4 linked regions of the Homo sapiens genome follow. The protein of the gene in region 1 interacts with the protein of each later gene in a biochemical or structural test. Each region holds a gene or a part of one and is shown in the gene's direction. Other genes may lie near its edges. The genes, in order: KIF11, PPARG, RNF20 and RNF40.

What was found.
Region 2: the proteins of KIF11 (region 1) and PPARG interact in a test that uses a peptide from one of them, tested with the Homo sapiens proteins (one study listed by BioGRID).
Region 3: the proteins of KIF11 (region 1) and RNF20 form a complex in vitro, tested with the Homo sapiens proteins (one study listed by BioGRID).
Region 4: the proteins of KIF11 (region 1) and RNF40 form a complex in vitro, tested with the Homo sapiens proteins (one study listed by BioGRID).

What each region holds. Positions count from the first base shown.
Region 1 is NC_000010.11:92,645,130-92,652,156, forward strand, and holds part of KIF11 (kinesin-like protein KIF11), read left to right. Parts: intron 1-233; coding exon 234-513; intron 514-3,082; coding exon 3,083-3,305; intron 3,306-4,705; coding exon 4,706-4,857; intron 4,858-5,271; coding exon 5,272-5,388; intron 5,389-7,027. UniProt on the Homo sapiens protein: Motor protein required for establishing a bipolar spindle and thus contributing to chromosome congression during mitosis. Required in non-mitotic cells for transport of secretory proteins from the Golgi complex to the cell surface.
Region 2 is NC_000003.12:12,376,048-12,383,074, forward strand, and holds part of PPARG (peroxisome proliferator-activated receptor gamma), read left to right. Parts: intron 1-3,656; coding exon of another isoform or gene 3,657-3,664; coding exon 3,665-3,884; intron 3,885-5,274; coding exon 5,275-5,444; intron 5,445-7,027. UniProt on the Homo sapiens protein: Nuclear receptor that binds peroxisome proliferators such as hypolipidemic drugs and fatty acids.
Region 3 is NC_000009.12:101,550,834-101,557,860, forward strand, and holds part of RNF20 (E3 ubiquitin-protein ligase BRE1A), read left to right. Parts: intron 1-850; coding exon 851-986; intron 987-1,307; coding exon 1,308-1,429; intron 1,430-1,549; coding exon 1,550-1,920; intron 1,921-3,154; coding exon 3,155-3,272; intron 3,273-3,860; coding exon 3,861-4,010; intron 4,011-6,550; coding exon 6,551-6,763; intron 6,764-7,027. UniProt on the Homo sapiens protein: Component of the RNF20/40 E3 ubiquitin-protein ligase complex that mediates monoubiquitination of 'Lys-120' of histone H2B (H2BK120ub1).
Region 4 is NC_000016.10:30,765,308-30,772,334, forward strand, and holds part of RNF40 (E3 ubiquitin-protein ligase BRE1B), read left to right. Parts: coding exon 1-20; intron 21-117; coding exon 118-192; intron 193-855; coding exon 856-975; intron 976-1,071; coding exon 1,072-1,251; intron 1,252-1,433; coding exon 1,434-1,569; intron 1,570-2,586; coding exon 2,587-2,708; intron 2,709-2,795; coding exon 2,796-3,223; intron 3,224-3,311; coding exon 3,312-3,429; intron 3,430-3,530; coding exon 3,531-3,680; intron 3,681-3,878; coding exon 3,879-4,091; intron 4,092-4,167; coding exon 4,168-4,293; intron 4,294-6,525; coding exon 6,526-6,666; intron 6,667-6,781; coding exon 6,782-6,883; intron 6,884-7,027.

The sequences.
Region 1 (7,027 bases):
AAAGGTTTCATGAGCAAAGATGATCCTTTCAAAGGTCATTTAATGGCAATGCTGTGAAAAGACAGTGGCCAAGGCATCCATTCTCAATGCAGAAGATTTACTAAGATCACGGGCCCTGGAGCCAGACTGTCCACGTTCAGATCTGCCACTTAAGAGCTGAGTGATCTTGGGAAGTTATATATCCTTTGAGTCTTAATTCCCCATTTCAACAGTGTCATTCTCTTTTCCTATAGGAAATCTAAGGATATAGTCAACAAAATGACTTTTCACAGTCAAAAATTTTGTGCTGATTCTGATGGCTTCTCACAGGAACTCAGAAATTTTAACCAAGAAGGTACAAAATTGGTTGAAGAATCTGTGAAACACTCTGATAAACTCAATGGCAACCTGGAAAAAATATCTCAAGAGACTGAACAGAGATGTGAATCTCTGAACACAAGAACAGTTTATTTTTCTGAACAGTGGGTATCTTCCTTAAATGAAAGGGAACAGGAACTTCACAACTTATTGGAGGTAATAACTTTGTAAGTGGAACTTACTTTGGGGAGAATAATAATCAGAAAGTTAAATATTCTTGGCTAAGAATAGATTTCAAAACAAATGATATTTTAAGCTATAATGACTTAAACTTTTAAGTATAATATTTGGTATGCTTACAGATGATCTCGTTTTGTGCTTTGTTATATGTCTTCTCAATCTTGGAATTAATTTAACATTTGTACAGTTTCTTTCCTGTATTTATCCTTGGTTTCTGACTTAGTAGTTTCTTCAAAGAAGGGCACCCTGTCTTTTGATATGTAATACCTTCCACTTATATATGCTTTTTTTTTTTTTTTTTTTGAGATGGAGTCTCACTCTGTTGCCCAGGCTGGAGTGCAATGGCACGATCTCAGCTCACTGCAACCTCCGCCTCCCAAGTTCAAGCGATTCTCCTGCCTCAGCCTCTCGAGTAGTTGGGATTATAGGCACCTGCCACCACACCCGGCTAATTTTTTTGTATTTTTAGTAGAGATGGGGTTTCACTATATTGGCCAGGCTGGTGTCAAACTCCTGACCTCATGATCCACCCGCCTCGGCCTCCCAAAGTGCTGGGATTACAGGCATGAGCCACTGCGCCCGGCCTATCTTTGCTTTTTACTTTTCTCCAAGTACATTCAAACCTATTATTATTTTAAGTATTTAGGTTATTGTTCTGGTAACTAAAGGATACTTGATAGGTTTATGGATTTGCTTGAACTTAACGCTTGCATGAGCCCTTTGTAACTTGGTTTTTTCTTTCTTTGCATTAATAGGATTTTACTAACATTCTCAGGAAGTAGGTACAAAGAATTAAAATTTTTAATCTATATAAGCTGTTTTCACTAAAAGGAACTAGAGTTTGTATACAAATAGCTAATTTCAGATTTGTGATAGGAAATGTATAATATATGAGCCTAGAGATCTTGTCATACCAGAGAGTAAGGAAGCTGTTAAAGATTTCTGAGGTTGTCAAAAGGTCTTAGTAGCCAACCTCCCCATCTTCAAAGGTGGCATAATTTGAGCATCAAAAAGAATAATGGCCATAATGGATTAAAACATATCAAATATATTAAAACTTACGAACTCATAAAAATTTCATAGGTCTCCTTTGGATCATGCTAGGGAAGCAACACATTGTCCTGAAAATGGGTAAAGAAGAAGAAAAAATTTAGCATCCATCTGTCTTTCCTAAAAGAACCATATCTTGGTTTAGCAGGGTAATGAAGAAAAGTGTTTCATTAGACTCTAAGCTAATAAAATGGAGAAGAAATGATAGAATTAATATATCACCAGTATGCAACTCTTAATAAAATAACCCCTGTGGATGTTAATGATGGCTTAAACCATTTGATCAAAAGCTGTTGGGGAACTTTATAATTAATAGGCTAACCATACCTGAACTCACTGATAAATCTTAACATGAGAGACACAGCAAAGCATTTTGTGCTTGCAGTACTACCTATGAAATACTCTTGCTAAAAAATTAAACCTGAATTAAATCAAGCCTTTAGGTCTAACCAGTTTGTAGAAAATAAAGCATAGAAATGCAGTTGACCAAATCCAGAATTTGAGATGTTCAATGGGGTAAAGACCTCATGTCTTCAGCAACAAGTTTTTTTTTTCAAGGGAAAAAATATGAGAAACAATAACCTGTATATCAAAAGAGACTTAAGACTAGAGGTCCTTAAGTCTTAGTTTGCCTGAGACAGTCCTTGTTGATATTGTTGTATTAGAATGATTATTAAGAATGGGCCCTTTCACTCCAAAAGGTGTCCCAATTTGGATGATAAATTATATAGTCACCGACTTAAGACCTATGAACCAAATCTAGTGGTGAATTCTGGTTCAAACAAAGCAATTGTGACACACATTTGAGACGACTGGTGAAGTTTGAACATGGACTAGACATTTGATAGGAAGGAATCAGTGTTAACCTTTTTAGATGTGATAGTGGTCTTAAAGTGCTCTTACCTCTTAGAGATACATGCTGAAGTAAATGGATGAAATGATACAGGATTTGTTTCAAAATAATCCTGGGTTTATGGAGGAGTTGAGTGGCCAGTCCTGTTGGTAAATGTCTGTACTCCACTTGTTGGTAAATGTTGAAGCTGGGTAATGAATACAAGGGAGTTAATTATACTGTTCTCTCTACTTTTGTATGTGTTTTTAAATCTTTTATTACTGAAGGCCAGGTGTGGTGGCTCATGCCTGTAATCTTTGGAGGTCAAGGTGGGCAGATTGCTTGAGCCCAGGAGTTTGAGACCAGCTTGGGCAACATGGTGAAATGCCATCTCTTCAAAAAATACAAAAATTAGCCAGGCATGGTGGTACATGCCTGTAGTCCCAGCTACCTGGGAGGCTGAGGTGGGAGGATGGCTTGAGCCTGGGAGGTCAAGGCTGTAGTGAGCACTACTCATGCCACTGCACTCCAGCCTGGGCAACAGAGTGAGACTTGTCTCCAAAAAAAAAAAAAATTATGGAAAAGGTAAGGGAAAATATGATGTTGAATAAAACACTGGCAACTTTAATTTTAGTAATAAATATTTATTTGCATCATTTACAGGTTGTAAGCCAATGTTGTGAGGCTTCAAGTTCAGACATCACTGAGAAATCAGATGGACGTAAGGCAGCTCATGAGAAACAGCATAACATTTTTCTTGATCAGATGACTATTGATGAAGATAAATTGATAGCACAAAATCTAGAACTTAATGAAACCATAAAAATTGGTTTGACTAAGCTTAATTGCTTTCTGGAACAGGATCTGAAACTGGATATCCCAACAGGTACTTTAAAAGAGAAATAGAATTGTTAAATTTTTTGAAGTCGAATTCAACTCTATGTAGTGTCAGATGTTCAGAAAAATTAGGTCCTGCCATTGCCTGACAGAAATTTAACATCTCACTGTAATCAACTCAAAATGGGAAAACTGGAACCTTAAAATAGTTTTAATCAAGTGTCATGATACAGGTGGTATCACAATTCAGTATAATTTCACATACTTTCAGGGAGTTGACTTTGTTAATAGGGGATTTTTTAAAACAAATACAAACCTAGCACTGTTTGTAAAAGGACATTTTAATACCACAAATATGGGAGAGATGTAACTGACTAAATCTAGTTTAATGCAAAGTTTACCACATTGTGCATTTTGTTCTGTGTCCCTCTCATTTTGTCATAGACTATTGCCATTTAGGAATCCCTGTTTTAAGAGATCAGGGATCACCATGGACCATTAGCATTTAGGAATCAACATTTTGAGAGATCACATATGGCAAAGATCATTATAGGCTGTAATGATTCAGGGAGGTCTTCATGGAAGAGATGTAACAAGCTGTTTTACACAGCATGAATAATTGGGTTCTTCATTGGATTATGGTAATGGTTGCACACCCTGTAAACTCACTAAAATCCACTGAATTGTACACATAAAATGAGTGTTTTATGGTATGTAAATTATATCACAAAACTCTTTTTTTTTTTTAATTTAAAAAGCAATTGTTAAAAGGGGATGGTGCTACATAGAATGTTGGTTTATTTATTCCCCAAGAGACCTGTAGGATTTACTGTCTACTTTTCAATGAAGTTAGGAATGTAAATGTTGAGTGAAAAGGCAAGTACTTTTGTAAATCATGAGAGCATGAGCTTATTACAGAGAAATATAACTGGGGGCCTGATGCGGTGGCTCACACCTATAATCCCAGCACTTCGGGAGGCAAGGCAGGAGGATCGTTTGAGCCCAGGGGTTCAAGACCAGCCTGGGCAACATAGTATATGTATATAACTAGTTAATATTTAACCACCACACCACATTTATAGTGAAATGATTACTCCTATCAAAGTAATCATGTTGGGAAATCTACTCATTCCAATAATGCTGCCATTTTTTTCAGAACACTATAACTCCTTTTAGAGCTTATAACACATCTTTTATATATCCTCAGAGATGGTAAACTTCATGTTTTAGAGAGTAGGATGAATCTTGAAAACAGTAAAGTCTGTCATCAAATTAGAAAGTATTGTTAGTTGCAAACAATGTCTGACAGGTAGCAAGACTGATCCTCATATATGGCAATTATATTTTTATATTTTTAGAAGACAAGATTAATTAGGAAGTTTTAGGTTTTTTTAAAAATATTTACATCTCATACTTTAATTTTTACCTCTTATCTAATGTCCGTTAAAGGTACGACACCACAGAGGAAAAGTTATTTATACCCATCAACACTGGTAAGAACTGAACCACGTGAACATCTCCTTGATCAGCTGAAAAGGAAACAGCCTGAGCTGTTAATGATGCTAAACTGTTCAGAAAACAACAAAGAAGAGACAATTCCGGTAAATTTAAAGGATCATATTTTATAATAGAACTCTTTTATGAACTCTTGATGTGGCTGACTTCATGTGAAGAATTTTACTGTTTACCCCTCAATCTTACCCCGCCTCTCATTAATGATAGGCCTAGCCCTTAGGCTTGTTTCTTTTAATCTTACTAGTTTTTAAATTATGCTAGTAGATAATAATAGCCAATACTTAATATTGTGCTTAGTAACATTGTTATATAGGAACCTCTACTCTCTATAAAAATATATTAGGAATTATTTTCATTAATTTGTAGACTTTCTAATAATTTTGTTGAGGTTTAACTTTTATATTATACCATGGGCATTGTGTTATACTCAAAGCTGCTGTTACTCTTGTGATGACTTTTAAGCCCTTGGACTTAGTCACTCATCCAGTTTCTTCTTTTAGGATGTGGATGTAGAAGAGGCAGTTCTGGGGCAGTATACTGAAGAACCTCTAAGTCAAGAGCCATCTGTAGATGCTGGTGTGGATTGTTCATCAATTGGCGGGGTTCCATTTTTCCAGGTATGTCATATCAGATAACCCTTCCACATCTGATGTAAGTCATTCATTTACTATTCATTATAAAGGTATTGTTCGTGGTGAGCAGAACAACAAAAACCTTTCAATTATTCCTTAGGATGGCTTGTTAACGCTTATGATTTGAATTATTTACAAAAATCTGATATTGATAAGGGGTTTTCTGTAGAATAAATGAAGGCAGAATTTGACTTAATCTACATCCTTAGCTGATAATCTTTAGCTATTGTATTTATTCCTTTTCTGCTTGCTATATACTCAGACACTGAGAGCAGTCATTTCTCTTCCTTCTACCTTTGACATGTAAGTCTTGGAACCTATCTCTGCCCATAATCAGACTTTGAAGGCAAAGTGATTGAAAAGATTGAGAGACTGGAGGCCTCTTAGGTTATATTAGTGATTTCTCCTGCCTGAGGCTCTTCTCTTGTAAACTGTTGCCCCATGTTTCCTGAGCACCTTGCCTGCTCTAATCCAGTGTAATTAAATCCTGTGACCTCTCCTACCCACTCTTCTTTTTTTTTTGAGACTGAGTCACCCAGGCTGAAGTGGAGTGGCACGATCTTGGCTCACTTAACCTCCGCCTCCTGAGTTCAAGTGATTCTCCTGACTCAGCCTCCCGGGTAGCTAGGATTACAGGCATGCACCACCACACCTGGCTAATTTTTTTGTATTTTTAGTAGAGACAGGGTTTCACTATGTGGGCCAGGCTGGTCTCAAACTCCTGACCTCAAGTTATCTACCCTCCTCGGCCTCCCAAAGTGCTGGGATTACAGGCGTGAGCCACTGTGCCCAGCCCTCTACCCACTTTTTTTTTTCTTTTGAGACGGAGCTTCGCTCTTGTTTCCCAGGCTGGAGTGCAATGGCACGATCTTGGCTCACCGCAACTTCCACCTCCTGGGTTCAAGTGATTCTCCTGCCTCAGCCTCCCGAGTAGCCAGGATTACAGGCATGTGCCACCATGCCTGGCTAATTTTGTTTTTTTTTTTTTTTTTTTTTTTTTTTTTTTTTTTTTTTTTAGTAGAGGGGGTTTCTCTGTGTTGGTCAGGCTGGTCTCGAACTCCCAACTTCAGGTGATCTGCCTGCCTCGGCCTCCCGTAGTGCTGGGATTACAGGTGTGAGCCACCGGCCCGGCCCCTCCTACCCACTTTTTAACACTGTTGAGAACATAGTTGGTTTATGATTCATCTCAGCATTGATGACTGAGTACACAATCAATGTCACCAGTCCCTTAATGTTCTCTATGGGTAAGTAGGAGGATTCCAATGAAATACAACTTCCAAGTGAGGCTCTATAAAGTGCTGGTATCTTTTCCTCTAATTTGAGGGTACAAGCCTAGACAGAGTGTGTGAAGGAAAAATTTCCTTACGTAGGACATTGGTATCTACATTTACAGTTGAAGTTCTACTTCTGAGATGCATATGCTTGTACCTTTTTTTTTTTTTTTTTTTTTTAAATATATATAGAGAGAGGGTCTTGCTATGTTGGCCAGACTGGTCTTGAACTCTTGGCCTCAAGCAGCCCTCCTACCTCAGCCTCCCAAAATGCTAGGATTACAGGCATGAACCACTGCGCCTGGCTGCTTGTACCTTTTTTGTGTGTATGTCTTGTTTTGTTTTTTTGTTTT
Region 2 (7,027 bases), on another chromosome or scaffold:
CAAGTGATTCTCCTGCCTCAGCTTCCCGAGTAGCTGGGATCACAGGCATGCACCACCATGACCAGCTAATTTTGTATTTTTAGCAGAGATGGGGTTTCTCCATGTTGATCAGGCTGGTCTCGAACTCCTGACCTCAGGTGATCCACCCTCTTTGGCCTCCCAAAGTGCTGGAATTACAGGTGTGAGCCACCGCACCCGGCCTCAGGGCATTTTTTCTTATGAAGATGACAGCCGAAATCTTCAATCTTCAACTCATGCAAAAGTTTGCCTTTGGAGTGAATTTCTTGGCAATCTGCTTGGTAAGAAAAAGCAAGTGGTGTTAAAGTGAGAGCATTAAAATAAAATTGCTCCAAAAAAATGATAAATAAATAAAAGAAAAGAAAAAGGAAAAGCAAGAGGCCCATGCACAGATACACAGAGGAGAGTGGCCCCTCCTCCATAAGCCTGTTTCATCAATGAGAGAATCAAGAGAGTATGTATATACAGAAGAGAGTTTCAGGGTCAGTCTTGAGTTTGCATCTTCTACTTCCTAGCTAGAGGACCTTGAACAATTCACTTTACTTCTTTGGTCCTAGCTTGCTTATCTATAAAGTGGGAATAATATTTCAGATTATGCAGAAGAAAAGGTAGGATGTACCGGGCACATGGGAAGTGCTTGATCAATACCAATTTGCTTCCCTCCTTCCCTGCCCCTTCTGCTGAAACTTCACAGCTATCTCATTAAGTCATCAATGTATTTAGTATTTAATAAATAAATATTTAACGAGCACCTACTATGAGACAAGCCCTTTGTTAGCCAGTGGGGATATGACTGCAAACAAGAAAGATACGCCTATGATTTGATGAATCCTGGAGTTTATGAGCAGCTCATCTCTGTCTCCCGTGTGAGCAGTCCTAAATTTACACAGCTCTCCACTGGTGTTTTTGACCACAGAGTTAACATTTAAAATACCTATGACTGCTTTTTTGGCACCACTTTGAATAATGAACTGGTGTCAGGTAAACAGAGTCCAGGTACCTATTGCAGAAAGTTTTCCAGTCTGCACCCTCGGTGGCTCACAAGTTCACATGAAGTGAACCAAAAGAGTTTTGTTGCACTTACTGTGACAATAAATCATGTTTAGAAAAATGCATGTGGCATACATGATATTGGGCAAATGATTCATGAAACTTGCTATTCTGTGGCCTTAGAATCCATGTAAGCATTTTTCCTTTGTCTTTTATGTGTTTTCTTGTTTCTATCTCTGTTTTGTTTTGTTTTTGTTTTGGGGATGGTTTAAAATTAATGCTGGGCTAGAGTCTGATTTTGACACTCTCGGGTGTGATCAAATGTTTCCACATATCTCTCTAACCTTTCTATTCTCAATGTGGGGAAAACTTTCTCCGCTTTAAGAAAAGGTGTATCCACAGAAAAGATTATTGAGTAATTTTTCATAGTACAGAAGTAATAATTGAGTGATTTTTCCCTTTAAAATTTTTTTATTTTTGTATTATTTTAAGAACAAAATTATTTTAGGATGCAATTAAAGAAGAAGTTCATTTACCTAAATTTAATTTGCCAACTTTTCTATTACACAAAAGCATTATAAATACAAGTAGAATAGCAAAAATTTCATCCTAAAGAGAAAAATATTTTGGGCTTCTAATTTCAAGAGAGTAAAATTGTCCTGGAACCCTGTGCACACTTTAAAAACAATCATTAACAGATTGCATCAAACTAGAAACTTCTTCACCACAAAGGAAATAATCAATAAAGTGAAAAGCCAGCCTACAGAATAGGGGAATCTGTACATCTGATATGAAGTTATGGATTGCAAATCGTACATCTGATATGGAATTAATATTCCAAAATATGTAAGAAACTCAACAAACTCAATTGCAAGAAAACAAATAACCCAGTTAAAAAATGATAAAGGAATATCCATTTCTAGAAAGAAGACATACAAGTGGCCAACAGATATATGAAAAGGTACTCACCATCACTAATCATCAGGGAAATGCAAATCAAAACCACGGTGAGATATCATCTCACACCCATTAGAATGGCTGTTATCAAAAACACAGAAGATAAGAAGTGTTGGCAAGGATGTGGATAAGAGGGAACCCTTGTACACTGTTGGCAGGAATGTAAATTGGTATAGTCATTATGGAAAACAGAATGGACTGCCTCAAAAAATTAAAAATAGAACTAGCATATGATCTAGCAATCCTACTTCTGGGTATATATCCAAGGGAAATGGAATCAGTATGTTGAAGAGCTATCTGCTCTCCCATGTTCACTGCAGCATTATTCGCAATAGCCAAGATATGAAATCAACCTAAGTGTCAATGGATGAATGGATTTTTGAAAACACAGTATATATCTGTATATATATACACACATACATATATACACATACAGATGTATATGTACACACCCAATAGAATATTATTCAGCCTTAAAAAGAGAAGGAAATCCTGTCATTTGCGACAACAGAGATGAACCTAGAGGACGTTATGCTAAGAGAATTAAACTGGGTGGTATTTGACACAGAAAGACAAATACCACATGATCCACGTGGAATCTAAAAAAGTCGAACTCATAAAAGCAGTGAGTAAAATGGTGGTTGCCAGGAGCTGGAGGGTGAGAGCAATGGGGAGATATCAGCCAGAGTTTCAGTTATGCAGGATAAGCTCTGGTCACCTTCTAAGGTGATCATCTGCTAAGTATAGGTCACCTTCAGCATGGTGACTATAGTTAGTGATACTGTATGGTATATTTGAAATTTGCTAAGACAGTAGATGTTAAGTGTTCTCACTACACATATTCATACTCAAAAAGGTAACTGTGAAGTGATGAATATGTTCATTACCTTGATTATGATAATCATTTCATAGTAAATACGTATATTAAAACATCACATTGAATACCTTAAGTGTTTTGTTTGTTTTTTGGTTTTTTGGGTTTTTTTGTTTTGTTTTGGTTTAGGTTTTTTTTGAGGTGGAGTCTTGCTCTGTCACCCAGGCTGGAGTGCAGTGGTGTGATCTCACCTTACTGCTACCTCTGCCTCCCAGGTTCAAGTGATTCTCCTGTCTCAGTCTCCCAAGTAGCTGGGATTACAGGCGTGCTACCACACCCGGCCAATTTTTGTATTTTTAGTAGAGATGAGGTTTCACCATGTTGGCCAGGCTGGTCTCGAACTCCTGACCTCAGGTGATCCTCCTGCCTCCGCCTCCCAAAGTGCTGGGATTACAGGTGTGAGCCACTGTGCCTGGCCTGTATACCTTAAGTTTAAAAATTTTTGTCTATTATACTCAATAAAGCTGGACAAAATTTTAAATAAATAACAGCAGTCATTAACAGACTCAATTGATGACCTAATGTAGAAGTTAATGAGAGCAGGCCTGTTGGCAAAAAGGCATTTATATGGATACACTGTATGTATCTGCACTGTTTCAGGATCCTCTATTATGATACCTGGGTAAAGGGTGACTTCCTTTCTATCATAAAACAGCCTAGACAGCACTAAGAAGGTGGTTATGTTCTTTTCTGTTGTTGTGAGCGCCCAGATGAGATTACTTTGCCAAAGACTCTTTTCATTTCTCTTTCTGAAACTCTGTGAGATTGCTGTGTTCTCTAGGACTTAACTTCACAGCTAGTCTATTTTTCCTTTCAGAAATGACCATGGTTGACACAGAGATGCCATTCTGGCCCACCAACTTTGGGATCAGCTCCGTGGATCTCTCCGTAATGGAAGACCACTCCCACTCCTTTGATATCAAGCCCTTCACTACTGTTGACTTCTCCAGCATTTCTACTCCACATTACGAAGACATTCCATTCACAAGAACAGATCCAGTGGTTGCAGATTACAAGTATGACCTGAAACTTCAAGAGTACCAAAGTATGATGTTTATTTTCACTTTTCAGACTACTAGGACTAGAATTGGACTCATCTCTCAGTAACCCTGTAATAAATAATGCTCCAGAGACTAGAAATCTAATAGAGAAGGCATTCACCATTCATTTATTCACCCATTTATCCATGAAATATTAGGTATCTATGAAATGCCAGGAAGGGAGCTGGCACGAGGTCAATCTTGCCTTCCCCGCCCCCTCCTTCCTTCCTCTCTTCTTTCCTTTCTTGCTTACTTCCTTCTTAGGGACATTTTCTACCTTGATTACACTGTCAGTTGTATCTCAGGCTAAGAGTCCATCATCCAAACTTTGAATTATTTTGGCCCCTTATAAGTTAATAAGTAACAATTCCAAGTCACTTTGTATTATATAACTTATCTTCACTATATTACTGCTACTACAGTACATTTTTTCTAGTATGTCCTTTCAGGAGTTTATACTGAAACCTACTTTTAAGCACAAATTTGTTTTAACATTGTAGCCTATTGATAAATTTTCATGCCATTAACTAAATCAACATCAAAACATCAGACTCAAGAAAAACTAGAACTGCACTTTTTGAGATAAAATGTATTTCTGTGATGCTATTTCCTTGATTTTTATCATGTGTGGGCTGACATGCTGGTTTTCCAAAGCCACCACTATGTAATTGGCAATCATTACTTGACAAGTAAGAACTTCCTGTATTTCTAGTGGCTTTTAAAGATAAATAATATGCTTAGTTATATTTATCTATGCGGTTTTCAGTTAGAGCCTAATATGGAAATTTAGTAGCCCTGAGCCCAACTAGTAAAAGGTAGGGCTTACTTCCATAAGTTCCGCCACGCTCTGTCAAAGATTATTTCACAAACCACCTCCTTTGACTGAACACTAATGGTAACCTGGGCTCATATTTTTCATGCACCTCAAGCTAGGCATACCATGACCTTTTCACAGTGGTGTTCCTTCTGTGGTTCTTTTGCAAGTTGTTTCAAAGTACTTATAAAATGGAATATTTAAATAAAATGTATAATTTAATATTGTGATGAATACCAAAGACAGAACATTTCCTAGCAAAATAAGCTTCCTTGTCTCAAATCCTCTATGTTGTCTGTTACAGCTGTAGTATTGCAGGCTACTGGGGGTCATAGAACCACAGACTTAATTCTCATTCCCATTTTATATTTACAGGTGAGGCTTAGAGATGTTATAACTTGCCTGTGATTACAAACCTTTCTTTTTCTTGCCTTAACTCCAGTGTTTTTTCATGTTCCACTGTGCTTTTACACTGAAACAATACAAATACAGCATGAAGGTGTACTATGGTGGCTTGCCCTGTTGCCTTTTTAGGACTGTTTTCATGGGATAATTATCCTCTCACATGTCTCCATACACAGGTGCAATCAAAGTGGAGCCTGCATCTCCACCTTATTATTCTGAGAAGACTCAGCTCTACAATAAGCCTCATGAAGAGCCTTCCAACTCCCTCATGGCAATTGAATGTCGTGTCTGTGGAGATAAAGCTTCTGGATTTCACTATGGAGTTCATGCTTGTGAAGGATGCAAGGTAATTAAAAAAAAAGTCTTCAAAGAAATTGTTGAAACTTTATTATTTCATTTCAGCAGAACCCCTTTTTTAGGTGATACAATATATGAATTTTTTTTCTTCATGGAAGAGTATCTTGCTCTGTCACCCAGACCAGAGTGCAGTGGTGCTATCCTAGCACACTGCAGCCTTGAGCTTCTGGGCTCAAGTGATCCTCCCACCTCAGCCTCCCAAAGGATGATATAAGATTTGAAAGCCTAAGAAAGTGGATAAAAGTTGGGCTGCTTTGCCCCACATTTGTTTCTCCAAATTGATTCTTTGAGACACTGATCTAATTTAATCCTTGCATCTTGCAGATTTTTACAAAAAGGTGACTTCTCCAAGGTGTCATGGCAAGACAGTGATGACCTGGAACCAGGATGCAGATTTCCTGCATTCTCTAGTTGTTTATTTATTTATTTATTTATTTATTTTGCTATACCGTGTAATATTGTATAGACAGAAGATTTTACAGATTATTTATATATGCATATCTTTGGATCCCTAGAGCAATCCTATAAGATTGGACTTCTTTATGGCCACATTGCAGATGTAGAAATTACAGGTTAGTAAAACTTGCCAAGGTCATCCCTTAGTAAGTGGCAGACCGCAGTCTAGACCCTGACTCCTTAGGTGGTGTTGGCTCTCAAAGCAGTGCCTCATGTTTCCTTATTCCAGCATCAATGTGAGCCACATACACGGACAGGTAAGGAGGTATAACAGTGTGGGAAAGGAGATACTATTTATCCTCATCTCTTTCCTTTGTGAAAAGGGTATTTTGGAAAATTCAGACGTTTAGTAATTTATTGCTTAATTATTAAGAAAATATGTGAATCCACTCATATTTTGATATGCAGTCTTTTAAGATAATTTTAATATACACAATGCAAAAATAGTACTAATTTATTATATACGCATTGCACAGAATAAACTGTTCATAAATATTCACTTTATAAAATAAATACCTGCTTATTGGGCTTTTTATTCAACGTAAAGATACAGAACAACAGTTAGGAAAGTTTTAGGACATCTTGGTTCCTAAATGGATGGTGGGCCAAAAAAGGAAACTGATTTTTATTGAATTCTTACTACATGCCAAATACTGTATGAGGTAACGTTTTCATACATCAGTATTTAACCACATCCTACCCAGGTTTTCTCATCTATAAAATGATTGTGGCTGAGTGTGGTGGCTCACGCCTCTAATCCCAACACTTTGGGAGGCCAAGGCAGGAGGATCACTTGAGCCCAGGGGTTCAAGACCAGTCTGGGCAGCATAGTGAGACCCCATCCCTACAAAATTTTTAAAAAATTAACCAGGCATGGTGGCACATGCCTGTAGTCCTAGCTTCTTGGGAGGTTTAGGTAAGAGGATCCCTTGATCCCAGAAGTTCAAGGCTGCAGTGAGCTATGATCATACCACTGCACTCCAGCCTGGGTCACAAAAGCAAGACCCTAACTCCAAAAATAAATAAATAAATAAGTAAATAAATAAAATGACACTGAATTACATGATCTCTAAAGTCCCTTCAATTGAAACAGTTTTTACTCTAAAGGCAACCTAA
Region 3 (7,027 bases), on another chromosome or scaffold:
ATTTTACAATTTTACTCCCTCATGTGCAATTAATCTCTCATTCATTCAGCTGTCATTCATAGAGTGGCAGTAGGTCTTTACTCTGGTAGGTACTGGGCATATAAAGATGAGATGACAAAATTCCTGCCCTCACAGATCTTGTAGTCTGCAGTAATGGGAGAATAGTATCCATTAGAATGCAATGTGGTACAATGGCAGCATAGCCAAAAGATGTGATACATGAGAAAAGAGTGTCTGATTTGACTGTGGAAGTTTCCTGATTCCACTTAAAAAAGTAAGGTATAAATATTAAGGATAAATTATTGGTAGTTGAAAGTAGGAGAAGAAGAATTCCCGGCATGAGAACAGCACATATAAAGGTATGAGAGAGCATGAGAAATAGTTTAATATGGCTAGAGCTTACGTGTATGTGAGAAAATAGTGGGTAGAAGCTGCAAAATTACTTACATTTCTTAAACAAAAAGCATATAATGGCACCAGTAGATGATTTTTTTAAAAGATAGAAACTTTTATTCATATGTTCATTTCTGTATCTTCCATAGTTTTTAAGGTAATGGTTATAATAGTTGGTCTTTTAATATATGCCTGACAAATGAATTGAATACTATTTTACATATGTTTATATACTGTTTTATAGTTTAGTTCTCCAACTAAATTCTAATATTCTCAGAATTGGTGGCCATTTTCTTTATTTTTCAGTATCCTGTCAGTTTCCAAATTAGTCTTTTGTAGATATCTGGTTTCATTACGTATAGATTGAACTGGAAATTTTCAGAGTAATCCATAGAATATGATGATATTTCTACATTTTAATAAGAATTTTTTTATTGGTTCCTTTATCTGTGTGTAGCGAGATGAGGTTAGTCTTCATAAGAAGCTGAGGACTGAAGTAATTCAGCTAGAAGATACATTGGCCCAGGTCCGCAAGGAGTATGAAATGCTGAGGATAGAATTTGAGCAGACCCTTGCTGCCAATGAACAAGCAGGTATAATGATTCTCACTCCATGCTGTAGTTTGCTCTTAATACCTTCCTTGAAAGATACAACACAGACCCCAGGGTTTGTTAATGCTGACTTCAACTCAGAAGTCATAAGTACCTTAAATCCTATAATTCATTTTGGTTCACAGCCTGGATGTTTGTTTTTTAACTCAAGTTGACCAGTTTTGTTTTCATCTTCTGAGAAGGAATCTTTTATTTGGTAATTCTCCCTATTTCTCAGTGCCTCCTGATGTGTTCTGTTCTTTCTCTCCTTGTGCCTTTGCCCTTACCACGGTTCCTCATAACATTGTTGTTCCTGTATTTAAGGCCCTATAAACAGGGAGATGCGCCACCTCATCAGTAGCCTCCAGAATCACAATCACCAGCTGAAAGGGGAGGTCCTGAGATATAAGCGGAAATTGAGAGAAGCCCAGTCTGACCTGAACAAGGTAACCAGAGGGAATAGAATAAATATCATTTGCTATTAATGTCGTAAAGCTGCTTTTGAATGAGGTCGGCAATGTGGTTATCATAAGAGATGTGCATCTTTCTTTTCTTTATTCTCCCAGACACGCCTGCGTAGTGGTAGTGCCCTCCTGCAGTCCCAGTCTAGTACTGAGGACCCGAAGGATGAGCCTGCGGAGCTAAAACCAGATTCTGAGGACTTATCCTCCCAGTCCTCAGCTTCAAAGGCATCTCAGGAGGATGCCAATGAAATCAAGTCTAAACGGGATGAAGAAGAACGAGAACGAGAAAGGAGGGAGAAGGAGAGGGAACGAGAAAGAGAACGGGAGAAGGAGAAGGAGAGAGAACGAGAGAAGCAGAAGCTAAAAGAGTCAGAAAAAGAGAGAGATTCTGCTAAGGATAAAGAGAAAGGCAAACATGATGATGGACGGAAAAAGGAAGCAGAAATTATCAAACAATTGAAGATTGAACTCAAGTAAGAACCACATTTAGAGTAACAGTTTCGACTGAAAAGCTAAGATTAAGACATCATGCATGAAATGTTTGGTTGATGGCATGGCTTGTCTGATCGTTTTAATGTTTTAGATTGTACAATTAATTTGGTTTCAAGTCGTGTTCAAGTGCACAGCCAAAATGGCTTGCATGGCTATTTAGTACTTTGGTTCAGTGATCGAGTATCAGCAAACCGATGATGGTAGCCTTATTTTTATGAATCCAAATTAAGGAAAAGGATGTCATGATTGAGGTAATACTTCTGAGAATTATTGGGAATTAACTACTGCTCTTCACTGGATTTGAGCAGATTGCTGGCGTTAATTGTAATTTAAATGATATTAAGTGGAGTATTTATATATCACTGTAACTTGAACAATATCTGATCTATTTGCCTGAGAGTTAACTGGTTTGTGAATATGCCATATCTTTCTTAGGAGATTTACTCCTATACACATTGACACACTAAGATAGACCTTTAACTTGTTGAATTTTTCTGTGTCATAACCTTATGCATTGGCCCTTCTCCTGTATAACCAATAACTTCTCTGGCAGAACGGCTTACTTCTTGCTCCTTACTTTCTATGGTTGATCCTTTGTTGATGTTTGGACTTGAGAGACCACTGTGCTCAAAATGCTTGAACTCTTTTGGTATATAAAAGTATAGTTAAGAGGTTTAGTAATTTAATAAGAGGTGAAGTTTTAGTCTTTGGCTGATGGTTAATCACTCAGCTGTCAAATCTAGGATTAACAGTATATCTCAGACTTTCAAATTTTTCCCTTTTATTTCTCCCTCTTGAACTCTTTAAGGCAATTTTTTTTTTTTCTGGTGTGGTATCAGAATCATCTGAGTGACTTGTTTAAATCACTTGTTTAAATTTTTGAACTCCATCCCCAGACCTACTGAATCTCAGTTACCCAGGGTTGGGGGCCACAGAAATTTGCCTATATAACAAGTACACAAATGTCTGTTTTATAACTTTGTTAGAGGACTTTGAAGGGAGAAATGATTCATTTTTATACAGCTTACTTTTCTGTACTTTCTAAGCATATCCAAAAGTCTTTTGATAGTCTGTGCAAAATTTTATCTTTTAGGTGTGATATGAAATGTAAAATGAAACTGTTTTAAAATATTCTGCTCAATCAAAATTCCCTTGCTCTGATGACCTTTATTTTCTTATTACATTGTTCCCCTCCCTCTACTACGCCTGTCATAGGAAGGCACAGGAGAGCCAAAAGGAGATGAAACTATTGCTGGATATGTACCGTTCTGCCCCAAAGGAACAGAGAGACAAAGTTCAGCTGATGGCAGCTGAGAAGAAGTCTAAGGCAGAGGTATTCTAGTCTGCTATTACCTGTCCTTCTGGTTAAAATCTTCATTTGTGGGATTTTCCTTTATACTTGCCAACGATATAATTTCTTTCTTTATCTTTAAAATAAGTGTTTAAGTGCAACATTTTCTGCCTTTTCAAAGACCATCTGAAGTAGAGATTTTAAAACTCTCCATAGGATGGTAAAATATATCTGAATTACTGGGGTTATGAGTAGGCTTTCCAAAGTATGTATTCCTTGTTTTTCCTATGTAATTCATTGCTACAGGGATAATCTTTTTCATTACTTTTGGGAGGAATGTCTTATGCTCTTAAAATTTTGAGGCCTAAAAAAAAGGATGGGAACCACTATTCTAAAGAAAGTTACCTGTGCACTTCTCAAAAGTGTTGCTTATAGAAGCATGTCATAGTAGAATGGAGTGATGTTAAAACAGATGGTGTTATGTAATGTTTTAGTATATTATGTACCTTGTTCTATAATTCTGTAAAGACTCTTTTGGTATTATGAACCTTCTATCTTTGCACAGTATTAATTGATTTTTGAAAATGTGTTATAACTTTTTATTTTTGTGCAATTCCTTTCCTCTTATAGTTGGAAGATCTAAGGCAAAGACTCAAGGATCTGGAAGATAAAGAGAAGAAAGAGAACAAGAAAATGGCTGATGAGGATGCCTTGAGGAAGATCCGGGCAGTGGAGGAGCAGATAGAATACCTACAGAAGAAGCTAGCCATGGCCAAGCAGGTGGACTCACTTTCTTTATTTAATTGACTTTTTGAGTAAATGTTACTTGACAATAAGTTATTGCCAGTGAAATTTGCTTTTTTATTTTGGTCTTTTTTTGATTGTTAATGTGTATTTTTCCTTTTTGTGTGTGTGTTTTAATTCTTACCTTCAAGTCTTTTATCTTTCTGTTATTTTGTTTTGTGTATTTGTGAGGCAAGAAATTTACTTTTATTTAAATGGACATTTATTGAAGATCTAGTCTTTCTCTGCTGTTGTTCAGACAGTTATTGAAGATCTAGTCTTTCTTTGCTGACCTGGAATTAAGGGTTATAGTGAATATAAAATGAAAAATAAGACATAAGATTTTATATACATTATGATTACAAATATATGAAACTAAGAAAACTATGCTTATAAATATATATCATTATATATTTCTATGTAGTACATATACTACACAGAAAAACTATGCTTATAAATATGTGATTTATATATAATAAGGATATAATCTATTAACCAATATAATAACATTGATTAAGCAGTATGTTAACTATGGCTATTTTGGGGTCATAGAACTATAGAGATTGTTCTCCTCCTTATAATGAATATGTATGTATTTTTAAATGCCAGGGAATTTTTATTAAAATTCAATAATAAAGATACTGAAAATGCTTGAAAAAACCATATATGTATTCTCTGTTAGTACACCTTCATTGTTTCTAAGAAATAGCAAAATAACAGTGAGATGGAGTAGGTTTAATGGTAAGTTGATCATGAAGTGCCTTGAAAAGAAGAACTTCATTAGATCCTATACACATTCCTTTTGTTAACAAGTGTAATTTTGGGCTGGGCGCGGTGGCTCATGCCTGTAATCCCAGCACTTTGGGAGGCCGAGGTGGATGGATCACCTGAAGTCGGGAGTTCAAGACCAGCCTGACCAACATGGAGAAACCCCATCACTATTAAAAAAAAAAAAAAACAAAATTAGCTGGGCTTGGTGGCGCATGCCTGTAATCCCAGCTACTTGGGAGGCTGAGGCAGGAGAATTGCTGGAACCCAGGAGTGGAGGTTGCAGTGAGCCGAGATGGCGCCATTGCACTCCAGCCTGGGCAACAAGAGCAAAACTCCATCTCAAAAAAAAAAAAAGTGTAATTTTGACTTTTCTTAAATCTGGTAAATGCCACTTTTTTTTTTCTTCCCTCTCTCTTAAGGTAATTATCAGGAAATTATACTATTATAGGTTCTAGAACAAGTAAAAAGAAAGACACTATGTTCTTGTATACGATGACTATCTTAAAAATGTTCAGTCTTTCTAAGTTTATGTATTAATATAATGTGATCTCATAAAAGTGCTTTTTTTAAGTTTTGCTTTTGTTTATTTTGGTACTAGAAGAACTGGTTTTAAAGTACATGTGGAGAAGTAAACAAGAGTAACAAGAGAAATTGAAAAAGAACAGCACTGGGGTCTCTTCCATATATTAAAACATAAAGTTTCTGTAGATGAAATAGCTTGGGACTACTAGACAGGCTATTAGAACTGAATAGAAACTTGAGAAGTAGTTGAAAGTACACATGATACTTATTATGTGCTAAATACATAGTTTTAAATCAGTGGGGAAAAGAAAAACTGTGACATGTGATGGGACAAAATTAAAAAAAATAATGTTAGAGAAAAGTTAGATACATACTTGAATACACTAGGATGATTTCCAAATGGATCATAGATATGATATTTTAAAAAATGCATCCATCAAAAAGCTAGAAGAAAACCATTAAATTCCTTTATAATTTGGAGTGGAGACCTTTCTATGAATAAAAGGCTAGAAAACATGAACAAAAAATTGATAATTTTGAGTTATTTTTTAAAATGATGCAAAACTTCTACACTGCAAAAAACACTGTTAGCAAAGCCAAAAGATTAAATGACAAAAAGTAAAAAATATTTTTAACTTTTATTACAAAGAAGGCTTATCTGATACAAAAAAAACTCTCCAAAATAGGGAAAAAAACTCAAGAATCCAGTGGAAGAATAGGCAAAAGAAATGAGTTGGTTATGGAAAGAATACAAGTGGTCTTAACCATATGAAAAGATGCTCAGTCTCACTTAAAATGAGATAGATATAAAGTAAAGCTATTATTAGATACCAGTCTTCACCTATCAGATTGTTACAAGGCTTTAGATGTTTGCAACTGCTGGAAATCCTGTAGATCCAGTATTTTAATTGTGGAAAAGCATGAGAAAATGTGAGAGGTTATGATGGAAGTACTCTTAACCAATTGCTGCTTGATCCGTTTGTCTAGATTAAGGTAAATACAATTATTGTCTAATTTAACTGACGTTGAGTACAGATCAACTAATAAGTATCAGACCAACAATTGGTGCCAGTGACTTCAGATAATAGAGCTTCTGTATGCCTAGTGACAAAACACAACTTCTTAAAACTCTGTCACTAAATTAATTTATATCTAAATGAACAGTGGGAAAATTTAGTTTCCTGTGCTCTTCCATTGAAGTTGGAAGATTCTTCTAAAATCAAATCTCTTCCTTCATCCTTTAGGAAGAAGAAGCACTCCTCTCTGAAATGGATGTCACAGGCCAGGCCTTTGAAGACATGCAGGAGCAAAATATCCGTTTGATGCAGCAATTGCGGGAGAAGGATGATGCAAATTTCAAGCTCATGTCAGAGCGTATCAAGTCCAATCAGATCCATAAGTTGCTTAAAGAAGAGAAGGAGGAGCTGGCAGACCAGGTGTTGACTCTGAAGACTCAGGTAATTAGGATGAGTAGAGCTTTCTATTCTGTTGAAATAGGGTGCTTTCTACATGATGATATAAGTAAAAGAATGATTATTGTGGCACATTTTTGTGATTGGAAAAAAATTTGAAAACTAAATGTTCATCATTAGGGTATTGGTAAATAAATTATACATCTCTACTGTTATTCCTACAAAAGAGTACAGTGTACTTGTCAAATATGGATCTGCTAATATGGAAACATGTCTGAAATAAAATCAAGTGACGTGTTTTGTTATCCT
Region 4 (7,027 bases), on another chromosome or scaffold:
TGGCAGAGGCCTTAGAGCAGGTGGGGCAGGGGTGCTGGGGCAGGTGAGGCAAGGCTGGGCCCTTGGGCCTTAGCTCCTCCCCTCTACATCCATTGCCTGTCTGTTTTCTCTCCACAGCTTAACTCTGGCTACTATGTATCTGGGAGCTCCTCAGGCTTCCAGGGGGGCCAGATCACACTCAGCATGCAGAAGGTGAGCGGCGTTTTCCTCCCACCCCTTCTCACAACCTCTTCTCTGTTGCACTCTTGAAATTCCCCTCAGGACAAAGGACAAACATCCATCTCTGAGGCCCTTCCTGGTCACTCCTGCTGCTCTTTTTTTCATGCATTCATATACTTGTTGAGTAGATTTTTGAACACTTAGTGCTAGGCACTAGGCATATTGGCGAGAACAAAATAGAGGTCAAAACTTTCATGGACCAGACAAGAAATAAATAAAAGAATATATCTTTAGGTTCTACTTGTGGTAACAGACAAGAAATCAGTAAAATAGCATATCAGTGTGTTATGAGTACCACAAAGATAAAGCACAGAAGAGAGAGCTAAGAGTGAGTTGGAGTCAGTTGGCATCTGGTGGTCACTGTGCCCTTTTTCCCTTTATTAGCACTTTAGGCCTTTCTGGAATGCCTTCCGTGACTCCCCATCAGTTAAGAGCCTTAGTTCCCAGCACCGACCATGCAGTATTGAATTTTCTCCCATTTTTCTGGGAGCCCTTAGGAAAGTACTTGGTTTGGGGTGTCAGAATCGATCATTGCCCTGCACGGGGTGCTTGGGGTGGAGTGTATGCTGGGGATGTAAGGGAGGCCTGCTGCCACGTCTGGCCCTGCCTCCCATGGCCCTGCCTCCCACTCCTTAGTTTGAGATGCTGAATGCAGAGTTAGAGGAAAACCAGGAACTGGCCAACAGCCGTATGGCAGAGCTGGAGAAACTGCAGGCCGAACTTCAGGGGGCTGTGCGGACCAATGAGCGCCTCAAGGTGGGCTGCTGTAGGGGCTGAGAGGTCCTGGGCCTGTAAGGGAGGGACTGAGCCCTGAATCCTGTTGCTGATCCCATTTGGGCATCCCTGCCCCAGGTGGCCCTGCGGAGCCTTCCTGAGGAGGTAGTGCGGGAGACGGGGGAGTACCGCATGCTGCAGGCCCAATTCTCACTGCTCTACAACGAGTCTCTGCAAGTGAAGACCCAGCTAGACGAGGCTCGGGGCCTGCTGCTGGCCACAAAGAACTCCCACCTGCGACACATCGAGCACATGGAGGTATGGCCCTGGAACAGGCGTTAGGGCTGGGCTAAGGGCCAAACCGTTAGTGTTGACGTGTTTGTGCCTTCCGAGGCCCTGTGTGCCAGCCAGGGGTCCCTGGGGAATAGATTCTTCCTAAGATACTGAGTCCTGAGGTGGGACCGAGGGGCTGTGTGGGTCCTTAACACATCAACCCACAGAGCGACGAGCTGGGGCTGCAGAAGAAGCTACGCACAGAGGTCATTCAGCTGGAGGACACGCTGGCCCAGGTACGCAAGGAGTATGAGATGCTGCGCATCGAGTTTGAGCAGAATCTGGCGGCCAACGAGCAGGCGGGTATGTGGTGAGGATAGGGCGGAGGTGGGGCCTTATCTGGGAGTGCTGGGCCCTGGTGTGGGGCTGCTGCTTATCCAGATGCAAGAGGCTAAGGCCTTTTTTTTCACAGAGCCTCGGCTTCCTATGCAAAACAGGGCCTGCACTGCTTGGCTCCCAGGCACAGTGAGGGTCCGCCAGCTGGGGTGGCTGATGGAGCAGGCACATGCAGAGTCTGAGCTGTCAGCCCTGTCCTCATTCTTCTGGTCTGATGACGTCTCTGTCTCTCAGATACTTGTGTTACAAAGATTTATCAAATGCCACCTCTGAGCCAGGCTCTGTTCTAGGGTTTGGGGTTATGCCAGTGAACAAAACAGAATTCCTGCCATGTGGAGCAACATTCTGATAGAAGACAGACTAGAGGAAGACGAACTAGTAGAAGAAAAATGGAAAATGTGTTAGCTCTTGACAGATAGGAAAGTAAAGCAGAAAAGGAAGATAGGAAGTATCAGGAGAAAGGGTGTTGCAATTTTGAATAGGAGGCCAGGGAAATGTACTGGGAAGGTGATATTTAAGAATCTAGAAGAAGTTAACTAACTTTTGTGAATGTTACAGTTACCTTCTCTATTAAAGGGAATTGGATGTATAAAAAAAAAAAAGAAAAAACCTAGGCCAGGTGTGGTGATTCATGTCTGTAATCCCAGCACTTTCGGAGGCCAAGGTGGGAGGATCACTTGAGGCCAGGAATTTGAGACCAGCCAGGGCAACAAAGTGAGACACTGTTTCTATTTAAAAAAAAAACAAAAAACCCCACATATTCTATATTAGCAAAAATCGTATGAATAGGCAGTGTCAAGTTAATTTTGGGTGAGTTTCCTTGAAGTCAGCATTATTTACTTTGATGAGTTCATGCTCCGTTGAGGCCGCAATGTTCCCCTCCTGCACAGTGGGAGTGATGGCATAGCCTCTTACCCCACTGAGGGGTTGGAGTCCTAACCCAGGAACTGGTTCTGACACCTTTACTTGCTGATGCTCCTCCAGGGCCCATCAACCGTGAGATGCGCCACCTGATTAGTAGTCTTCAAAACCACAACCACCAGCTAAAAGGGGACGCCCAGCGATACAAGCGGAAGCTTCGAGAAGTACAAGCTGAGATTGGCAAGGTGAGAAGGGGCCTGCCTGGGAAAAGGTTTGGCTAGACTCCAGTGAACACCATCTGACTTCATCCCTCTTCCTCTCTGCCTTTGCAGCTCCGGGCCCAGGCCAGTGGCTCTGCCCACTCCACCCCCAACCTGGGCCACCCAGAGGATTCTGGCGTCAGTGCCCCAGCCCCAGGGAAAGAGGAGGGTGGGCCAGGCCCTGTCAGTACCCCCGACAACAGAAAGGAGATGGCTCCAGTGCCTGGCACCACCACTACTACCACTTCAGTGAAGAAGGAGGAGCTGGTCCCCTCTGAAGAGGACTTCCAGGGTATAACCCCTGGGGCCCAGGGCCCTTCCTCCCGGGGCCGAGAACCTGAGGCCAGGCCCAAGCGGGAGCTTCGGGAACGGGAAGGTCCCAGCCTAGGACCTCCACCTGTAGCCTCCGCTCTCTCAAGGGCTGATCGGGAGAAGGCCAAGGTGGAAGAAACCAAGCGGAAGGAATCAGAACTCCTCAAGGGTCTCCGAGCAGAGCTCAAGTGAGGCTCTGTTCCTGTCTCCTTCCTGACCCTGCCAGGTGGCCTCCAGTCCCACTCACTAAGACTTCCTCCTGTACCTTCTTGCCAGGAAGGCCCAGGAGAGCCAGAAGGAGATGAAACTGCTGCTGGATATGTACAAGTCAGCGCCCAAGGAGCAGCGGGATAAGGTGCAGCTCATGGCAGCGGAACGCAAGGCTAAGGCCGAGGTGAGGGCAGCTGGGGCTTGTGGGGCATTCAGAAAGGCAGAGCAGAGTCCTAGCTCAGCAGGAAGCAGTGTCAAGAGAGTTTCTTCTTCCCTGTGCTATAGGTTGATGAGCTGCGGAGCCGCATCCGGGAATTGGAGGAGAGGGATCGAAGGGAGAGCAAGAAGATCGCGGATGAGGATGCCCTGCGGCGCATTCGGCAGGCAGAGGAGCAGATAGAACACCTGCAGCGCAAGCTGGGTGCCACCAAGCAGGTGCGGCCCATGTGGTGCCCTCGCGTCGGAGCGCAGGGAGTTCCCTTCATACCCTGTTTGGTGCCTCTAGTGCCTGCAGGACCTTGATGATCTGGGTCCCCTCTGTAGTTCTTTGCTTCGCTGCGTTTTCCCATGGTTCCCCCACAGCCATCCTGTCCACTTCCCACGTTCCATCTTGTCTCTGCCCACTTGCTGCAGGAGGAGGAGGCTCTGCTCTCAGAGATGGATGTGACAGGTCAGGCTTTTGAGGACATGCAGGAACAGAACGGGCGGCTGCTACAGCAGTTGCGGGAAAAGGATGATGCCAACTTTAAGCTAATGTCAGAGCGGATCAAGGCCAACCAGATTCACAAGCTGCTGCGGGAGGAGAAGGATGAGTTGGGCGAGCAGGTCCTTGGCCTCAAGTCCCAGGTATGGCCGCCGCCAGCTTGCAGACTGGAGCTGGAGAGGTGGGGGTCATGGCCCTGAGTCCTCCTCTGGTCCTTAGGTGGATGCCCAGCTGCTGACTGTGCAGAAGCTAGAGGAGAAGGAGCGAGCCTTGCAGGGCAGCCTCGGGGGTGTGGAGAAGGAGCTGACGCTGCGCAGCCAAGCCCTGGAGCTCAACAAGCGGAAGGTGAGGCTGGGCCAGGGGGACACACAGCTTGGGCTGCTGGCTCACCTCCTCACCTTCCGGTTCTGCTCAGAGCACCCGATGCAATAGCCTGAGGTGAAGCCAGGCTGTCACAGAACAGCTCACACATATTGAACATTTACATGTGCCAGACCACATGCTGAGTACTTGACATGCTTGGTCACATTTCAGTCTCACTAATCCTATCAAGATGGTGTTTACGGGCGTGGTGGCTCACGTCTGTGATCCCAACACTTTGGGAAACAGAGGCGGGAGGTTTGCTTGAGGCCAGGAGTTGGAGACCAGCCTGGGCAACATAGTGAGACCCCATCTCTACAAAAAAATTTTAAAATTAGCTGGGTGTGCTGGTGCACGCCTGTAGTCCCAGCTTCTCGAGCAGGCTGACAGGTGAGAGGATCACTTGAACCCAGGAGGTTGAGGCTGCAGTGAGCTATGATCGCACTGCACTGCAGTCTGGGTGACAAGAGCGAGACTCTGTCCCTAGGGAAAAAAAACAAAAGATTTTTGAGTTGGAGTCTTGTTCTGTCGCCCGGGCTGGAGTGCAGTGGTGCGATCTCGGCTCACTGCAACCTCCGCCTCCCAGGTTCAAGCAACTCTCCCAACCTCAGCCTCTCAAGTAGCTGGGATTACAGGCGCGCACCACCACGCCTGGCTAATTTTTGTATTTTTTTTTAGTAGAGACAGGGTTTCGCCATGTTGACCAGGCTGGTATCGAACTCCTGACCTTGTGATCCACCCACATTGGCCTCCCAAAGTGCTGGGGTTACAGCGTGAGCCACTGCACCTGGCTGGATTTTGTTTTTAGCCTCGTTTTATAAATAAGGAAACTGAGGCTCAGGGAGGTGGATTGTTCTGCTCAAGAGGGAGTGGCCCTAATATTTGGGTCCAAGCCTCCTTGACTCCAGGCTCTACCTTCTAACCACTCGCTGGTGAACTGTAAAGTGGGGATGATGTTCTTTGTCACATAGTTGTATTAAATAGAAGAAATGTCTAGCTTTGGCTAAAGGCTTAAGATTAACATTGATTTCCATTTCCTCTGAAGCTGTTTTCTTCTCCAGTTAGTTCATTCATTTAAGCAGTATGTTTGTGGTTTTTTTGTTGTTGTTTTTTTTAGACGGAGTCTAGCTCTGTTGCCCAGGCTGGAGTACAGTGGCTCGGTCTCAGTTCACTGCAACCTCCGCCTCCCAGGTTCAAGCGATTCTTCTGCCTTAGTGTCCCGAGTAGCTGGGACTACAGGAGCCTGCCACCTCGCCCAGCTAATTTTTGTATTTTTAGTAGAGACGGGGTTTCACTGTGTTTGCCAGGCTGGTCTCAAACTCCTGACATCGTGATTTGCCCGCCTTGGCCTCCCAAAGTGTTGGGATTACAAGTGTGAGCCACTGTGCTTGGCCCATTTAAGCAGCATATTTTACATCCCTGCTATGTACTAGGCCTTGCGCTGATTGCTGTGGAGACATTGGGAACAAGAAGGTCCCTGCCTTCCAGTCAAAGCTGGAACTTCAGGTCTTGGCAGGCAGAGCAGGCCAGTAATCCCCCAAATAAAATAGTGCATGTCACAGTAAGCCTTGTGCAGGAATCTGAGGTGCTGTCAAAGAAAAATAGGGGAGCCTTTTAGGAGGTGACACTTGAGCTGAGGCCCAGGGGAGCTGCATGTGTGGTGGGGAAGTTGAGGGGAGCAGAGAGGAGAGCCTTGTGAAAGCTCAAAAACCAGACAGCAGGCCAGGCGTGGTGGCTCACGACTGTAATCCCAGCACTTTGGGAGGCCGAGGCGGGCAGATCATGAGGTCAGGAGATCTAGACCATCCTGGCTAACACGGTGAAACCCCATCTCTACTAAAAATACAAAAAATTAGCTGGGTGTGGTGGTGGGCGCCTATAGTCCCAGCTACTCGGGAGGCTGAGGCAGGAGAATGGTGTGAACCCAGGAGTCGGAGGTTGCAGTGAGCTGAGATCGTGTCACTGGACTCCAGCGTGGGGGACAGAGTAAGACTCCGTCTCAAAAAAACAAAAAACAAAGAAACCCCAAAAAACAGCATCACACGGGAGGAACTGGAGAGGGAGAACAGGAGGGGAGGGCTTAGGGCTCAGGAGGCAGGAGCAGCTCCAGGGCAGGTGTCACTGGGGCCCTGGACAGAAGCATTGGTGGGCCGTGACTCCACATGCCTGAGTCACCAGGCTCAGACCAGTGCCTCCTTCCTGTTCCACCCTACTCAGGCTGTAGAAGCCGCCCAGCTGGCCGAGGACCTGAAGGTGCAGCTGGAGCACGTGCAGACTCGGCTGCGGGAGATCCAGCCCTGCCTGGCAGAGAGCCGGGCTGCTCGTGAGAAAGAGAGCTTCAACCTCAAGAGGGCTCAGGTGTGTGCAGGGGTGAGGGGCCAGGCCAGGGTGGTCCACGGTCACGGACCTATCCTGGGGGCAAGCGGCTCAAGGTTGAGGACCCTTGCCCTTAGCCAGGCCTCTCCTGCCCCAGGAGGACATCTCACGGCTGCGGCGCAAGCTGGAAAAGCAGAGGAAGGTGGAGGTCTACGCAGATGCCGACGAAATCCTCCAGGAGGAGATCAAGGAGTACAAGGTGGGGCTGTGGGCCAAGTTGTGCCCTATCCACCTGAGAATTGTAGATGCAGGATTGCTGAGACTAGTGGAGAGTCTGGGGACCCTGGAAGTAATGTAGGGCAGCAGAAAGTGGGCAGCACAGTGGTCACAGAGTCAAATGCTG